Homo sapiens: one gene and its partner. The protein of the gene in region 2 interacts with the protein of the main gene of each other region in a pairwise test. Each region holds a gene or a part of one and is shown on either strand. Other genes may lie near its edges.

Region 1 (3,527 bases), on a different chromosome or scaffold from region 2:
TTTATAATTAATTGTTTTGTTTTTGGAAATAATAAAATGACACAAACAGAGACAAGAACAAAAATGAATTTATATAACCTACAAATAGATTTTTTATTATATACTATATATGTTTCATTTTGTCTCTTAGATAAATATCTGATATTTCTGGCAATTTAATGGCATTAGTAAGTAACGTATGGGTAGTTTTAATCTTTTTCTATGCATTCTGCTTGAACTTGTTCCAGCATTTTAATCATCCATGTAGAATGTATTCTTTTAATTATGTTTCTTATTATATGTAAAATCTTCTCTAAATAATATTAAATAAAGTATTTCCATTCATGTTCAATGATCTAATTTCCCTTTATAACTTTTATTTTTAAGTTAGGCAGAAGCATAAATTAAAAAAAACAACCTCAAGGAGCAGATATTCTTAATTCACAGCTTCACGTTATACATAAAATTATGTTTATAAAACAGAATTTTAAGGTTTATTGCATTTATAATATCATAACTTGTTATGCTGAAGCTTAAATTATGCTAAAGCTGTAGTTGTCTCCATTGGGAATGCATATTTGGTGGAAATTATGTGTAAATTTAATAAACCTTTAATATATCTGTATAGGCCATTAAAAATGTTTCATTAAAAAATCATTTAGTTTGTTTTTTTTCAGTCATTCAACACATAATGAGCACCTACTAGGTTCTAAGTACAGTACCTGCTAGGTACTGAGTATACAGTTGTGGATTAAAACCATTGCTCTTGTGAACTTTACCTGACCAGTGATTGAAAGACTTAAACAGCATCTGAGTCATATGGTTCAGAATAGGTAAAACGGAAGTTTTTCCTATCAGATAAAAGCATCTGAAATAAGAAAGTTAGGATAACCTCCAGTAGTTGAGCATATCCCAAAGCCATATACAATCTTTATGTTTTATTTTTTGGGCAAATGCAGAAATCAGTACCTCCCATAGATGGCCTTTCACTGTCCTTTTATAAGTTATGGGCCTTCATGGTTTTAAGATCAGTCCAGGAGAGCAGAAGCCTGAGGTCTAGGGCTAAGGTATGGGGATAACAAGACTGAGAATGCATTAAATGGCTCTGTACACCATTTGAAAACCTTAGGGTTGTGGGAAAGATTGGTGTCTGTTTGACAACATGAAAACTGGCTTTTCTTTTTATTTTCTTCATTGGCCTTCTATAATATTTGTAATTTCCTGCTCCTTTAAAGCACAATTTTAAAGTTAAGGATGGGGGAGATCTGTGAGTATGTATTATTGAAATCCCAATCTTAGTCACTTTAATGTATTTCAAGTGTTTAAGATTTTTTTTTATTTTGTAACTTTATAGTTTTAAAGCTTTATCATTTAATGTACATTAAATTAAAATTATGCTATAAATATACACTTTTTCTTCATTTGATTTACATATTATAATGCTTTTTTGTGTGCTATAGTGCAAACTTGGATGAGGAGGCACAGGCTGGTACCAGTTCACTACAGGTAATGTTGGATCACCATCCTGTTGCTATTACAGTGGAGGTGAAGCAAGAAGAAGACATTAAACCACCTCCTCCACTGGTTTTAAATTCTCAACAGAGTGATACTTTAGAGCAAAGAGAAGAACATGAATTAGTACATGTTATGGAAAGATCCTTGTCGCCTTCACTTTCCTCTGTTGATATGAGAATGACATCGTCTCCATCTTCTATTCCAAGGAGAGATGATTTTTTTCGGCATGAGAGTGGTGAACACTTTAGGTCACTATTAGGGTATGATCCTCAGATCCTGCAAATGTTGAAAGAGGAGCATCAGATAATTTTAGAAAATCAAAAAAATTTTGGATTGTATGTTCAGGAGAAGAGGGATGGATTGAAAAGAAGGCAGCAGCTAGAGGAAGAGCTACTAAGAGCAAAAATTGAAGTGGAGAAGCTGAAAGCAATTCGCTTACGGCATGATCTACCTGAATATAACAGTCTCTAAGTTTTTTTTTCAATCTTGCAATTTGATAATTTTGATTTTGGCCAAATTACTTTAATTTGGGAATATCCTGAAACAGAATACACGTTCTTGAAAAATGTTGTTAATCTCTATTATGGAAAAACTTTTTAGATATAATTTTCTAATTATTTTCTTTTGAGATATTAAAATTTACTGGTTGGTTGGCATGGTTATAGTTTTTATTGTCTTCTTTTTTTTTTCCCTAAGTTTAATTGTTGACCTTACAAAAGATATTTTATTCTGATCACTAAGATATACACAAATGCATATACAAACACATATTCTTTCAAAGTTCTGAGTCTTCAACATTTTTAGTTAGAACTTTGAAAGCTATAATTAGAGATTTTTAAGTCAGTCTAATTTAGGAGCTATACTAACCTAATACCAAGAAGCTTGTCTGTATGACATTGGTTTTTATGCTTTTATCTTTTGAAGGAGTAAATCCTAGGATTTTAGAGATGGAAGATATTTGGAGAACACTTTTTTTCCATCTCTGCAGTTTAGGGGTAATGAAACAGGTCCAGGGAGAACTCAATGACTTACTTAGGGTAACAAAGCTATTTATGGCAGAGCAGAGACCAGCACTTAGTTTTTCTTTGTGTAATTTCCATCCCGCTATTCGATAGAAGTAAATATCCACTAAAACATTCTCTAGATTTAAATATTAGAAGCATTTCTTTCATTAAAATTGCCTTTAAAGATTGTTAGGTTGTGAAATCAGGATAATTACATCAATTACCCCCATTCTCTCTCTATTTTTGTTCCAGCAAAATAGATAAGGTATTCCATTGAAGCTATTATATATTTTGGCTGTGTGATTTAAAGACATGTCTTAATTCATTTTGAATGTCCTGTTCTGGAAAAAATTTCTTTCACAGTAAAAATCAGAATGAACAAAATTAAAATTTTATGTATTTTATAAGTATTGTTATTTTAGTATTCATGGAAATAAAACCTCAATTCTTAAAGCATACATATTAAATTTATATTAAATCTCTAATATGTATGTTACTTAAGAATTTCTATTTTTGCTGGGGTTTTGTTGAGAAGGGATTTTTAAGCCAAGTTGTAGAATGGGGTGGGTGTAATTTCAGCAGTGAAGGGGACCATGGGTGTTTGAAGTCAAGAGTGAGACGCTGGAAAAAAGACAAAAGAATGGGAAAAAGTGGATTGAGTATATAAGCACAAATGCAGTGCTAAGCCATTGATTTTAAGTGAATGTAGAGAGAGTCAATTTGGGCTGTAGTATCCTGGACTAGGAAGGACATCTCCCTGGACTAGGTAGGGTAGCTGCTGTTTAGCTCCAGCAGAATTTTCACATGCGGGGATAAACCAGAAATCTGCATTTTTTAATGAGGAATCTTCCAATTTTAAAATGTTTGCAAATAACACAAAATGCTTTTAAAACATTATACAGACAACATGTGAGTGGGCCTCACTGAGCCATTGGGCTTCCACTTTGTGGCCTTTGGAGTAGACCAATGGTTTTCCAAGTATGGGTCCTGACCAGCAGCATCAGCATCACTTGAGAACTTGTTAGAAAT
Region 2 (3,663 bases):
CAGGAATTTGAGACCAGCCTTAGCAACATACTGAGACTCTGTCTTTACAAAATATTAAAATATATATATATAGTATCACCTTTGCTTATGGAAGGTTGCATAGAATTATTAGATGAGGTTCACGTTTGAATTTTTTTCTTCTTTATAAACTCAAAGATAGTACACACATAGTAGCAGAAAGACACAGGTTTGAGCCATGATATGTTGGCCAAACCAGTTTGTCTGGTTATCTTTAGGTCCATATAGTACGTATCTGCTAACATATACTAATGCAGTCTGAAATACGGAATGAGTTTTATTTTTCTTGTATTTGGATCAAATTTGCAACCTTAGATTTACTAGTACTGGGGTATACCAATTGAATGCCCATTTTGTTTTTGTACTGTGTTCCCAACCTTAGTTTTTCTTCGATTTTTATTCATTGGAATTGTTGCTCTTTTATGAAATACTAAATGAAATATGAAGGGAAAGTGGAAAGTAAAAAGCACTGAGCTGAGACTTAGGAGAGTTGGGTTCTAGACTTACCTTTCTGTTCATTTGTTACCTTGGGCAAGTCATTTCTCTGGGTTTGTTTTCTTATCAATAAAGTGAGGGGCTGGATGAGATGGTTTCCAGTATACCCTCCAAATTTTAAGTGCATCGATTCTATGATTTTAATATAGAGGGATTACTTTTTATTGCTATAGAATAATATTTATTAATCCCTAGATTGTTGGTTTACTGGGCTCTTAACCTTGGATTGCAACTGATGAGTAGCTATACTGTACCCAACTTTGGTTAGCTATCTTGAGAATACATACTATATGTAAAAAAGATGAATAGTTTAATACAGGCTCATTGACTGTTTTAGAAGGTATTTAGAATAAGCGTGCTCTTGATAGCTGGCCAGCAGCCCCACTTAAAGAAGCAAATTCAATACTGTTACAAAAATTTTTGGGAGAAGGTCATAGACTATAATAAATTGAAATTCTTTTTACCCAGATGAAATTACAGAAGCCAAATCAGGGACTGCTACTCCACAGAGATCGGGATCAGTTAGCAACTATCGATCTTGCCAAAGGAGTGATTCAGATGCTGAGGCTCAAGGAAAATCCTCAGAAGTTTCTCTTACCTCATCTGTGACCTCACTTGACTCTTCTCCTGTTGACCTAACTCCAAGACCTGGAAGTCACACAATAGAATTTTTTGAGATGTGTGCAAATCTAATTAAAATTCTTGCACAATAAACAGAAAACTTTGCTTATTTCTTTTGCAGCAATAAGCATGCATAATAAGTCACAGCCAAATGCTTCCATTTGTAATCAAGTTATACATAATTATAACCGAGGGCTGGCGTTTTGGAATGCAATTTGCACAGGGATTGGAACATGATTTATAGTTAAAAGCCTAATATGCAGAAATGAATTAAGATCATTTTGTTGTTCATTGTGCAGTATGTATATAGCATAATATACACAGTGAATTATAGGTCTCAGGCTTACTTGATTTTTGGCTATTTTATATTTAGTGTACACAGGGCTTTGAAATATTAATTTACATAAAGGCCTTCATATATTATTACGTGTTATATATTACGTGTTATAAATTTATTCAATAAATATTTGCCTAGAATTCCCAAGACCTTTATAGGTGATTTTGTTTTCTGGGCTCCTTAACTTCATAAATAGCTAGTATCTTCCAGCAGTAGTAACAGTCTGGATAACTTCTTCCATATCCCTCCCTCTTTGTTTTTTTGAGACAGTGTCACTTTGTCACCCAGGCTGGAGTGCAATGGTGTGGTCTCGGCTCACTGCAACCTCCACCTCCCGGGTTCAAGTGATTCTCCCGCCTCAGCTTCCTGAGTAGCTGGAACTACAGGCGTGTGCCACCACACCCGGCTAATTTTTCGTATTTTTAGTGTAGACGGGGTTTCACTATGTTGCCCAGGCTGGTCTCGAACTCCTGACCGCGTGATCCACCACCTCAGCTTCCCAAAGTGGTGGGATTACAGGCGTGAGCCACCGCACCCGGCCTCCATATCCCCCTTTTAAAATTCTGTAGTGTATGGTAAGTCATATCAGATATCAGACCTAATTTAAATTTCATTTTAGCTTTACAAGTCCAAAAACACAGAATTTATATATTCAGATACTCTAGCACTAATTTTAGTCTTAAAATATTCCCACGATATTCTGTACACAAAATGTTCTTTTTGTTACAAGAGCTGAGTTGCATATACTGTAGATAAATCATATTATTTTTGCCAATTTCACAAATTCCTCTGGCCCATCATGTCAGTCATTATTGAGTATATGCACACATTGCTACTTATTTGATTATGTATCTTTTAAATTGATTCAGTGCATAGAAAACTATCTCTTACAAACTTTAAGTGCTCTGATATGACTTCCCCCCCAAATTTTATTATGAACATTTTTAAAAACAGAAAAATTGAAAAACTGTTTGGTAAGCACATGTATATCTACCATTTAGATTCAGCAGTTGTTAATGTTTTGTCATTTGTTTTCTCTATACCTATATATGTATAGATACAGCTAGTTATGCATATATATGCATATATGTGTTTGTTTGTGTATGTATATATGCTTTTTTCCCCCTGAACCATTTGGATGTTACAGACATACTTATCACCGTGAAAATACTTCAAGTATCTCCTACAGATAATGACATTCTCCTAAAAATCCGTAATACCATTGTAAAAGTAATAATTCCCCAATATCATCTAATCAAGCCATATTTAAATTTCTGAAGTTAACTCCAAATTTCTTTATAGCTGATTATTTCAAACTAGGATCCAATTAAAGTTTACATATGACACTTGGTTATAACTCTTTAGTTGGATATAACATTATTATTATTTTGATAAAATATGGAACAAATCAATTCTATTAATAAGTGGTCACATTTGTTTTGGGCTTAAATTACTTTTTAAAGATACTGGATTTTCCTAAGATTTCTGATTTACACTGATATTTTTTTTTGTCATTCTTAATTGCATCACACAATAGATGTAAATGAAGATGTAGTCACCTCAGATAAAATTGGTATCGTGTATGATAATATTGTATCATTTATATTTGCCTTATGTTAACTTTAAGAAATTGATTTTTTTGTATTAATCATTTTCCCATTGCAACAGAGCTATATTTTTTCTATTTTAAGAATCATATTTTAGGATTATTTTTGGCAAATACAGTGAGCACTTATGTAACCAGATGATAATGAACTCAAATGTCATGATAGCTTGCATAAATGGTGACTCTAGTAGATTTGACTCAAGCACTTCTAGAATCATGCACTGAATTCAAAAGAAAAATCTTGCTGCTTTTTGTCCAGGGCTTGTTCTATTCAACTTCTAATTTGAAAGCTGTACAAAGTAATAGAAGTTCCATTTAAATATGAGTTCAAAACTGTATTTACTTTTTATGTGGCCCTCTCTTTAGGGGATTCTAATTTTACTTAGGGTCTCTAAGTGCAGCATAATGTTCCTGATGTTAACAGAAGACTGTATTTTTAAAGTTACAAATTTGTATATGGAATTAAGTAATGGCGCTATATACGCTGTTGTGGGGAGGGGGGAAGAAAAGGAGGAACCAATTAAATAGGACCTTTTAAAAATTGTTAATTTTGTAAACTTTGCTTCTCTTATAAGTTATTGTGATT

What was found. Proteins that work in one complex are often made in the same cells at the same time.
Region 1: the proteins of PRKAA1 (region 2) and FSBP interact in binary tests that used the Homo sapiens proteins (3 or more experiments, as listed by UniProt).

The regions. Positions count from the first base shown.
Region 1 is NC_000008.11:94,430,569-94,434,095, reverse strand, and holds part of FSBP (fibrinogen silencer-binding protein), read left to right. Parts: intron 1-1,439; coding exon 1,440-1,965; 3' UTR 1,966-3,527. UniProt on the Homo sapiens protein: Transcriptional repressor that down-regulates the expression of the fibrinogen gamma chain. Represses transcription of GSK3B gene promoter via its interaction with APBA1.
Region 2 is NC_000005.10:40,760,341-40,764,003, reverse strand, and holds part of PRKAA1 (5'-AMP-activated protein kinase catalytic subunit alpha-1), read left to right. Parts: exon of another isoform or gene 1-981; coding exon 982-1,226; 3' UTR 1,227-3,663. UniProt on the Homo sapiens protein: Catalytic subunit of AMP-activated protein kinase (AMPK), an energy sensor protein kinase that plays a key role in regulating cellular energy metabolism.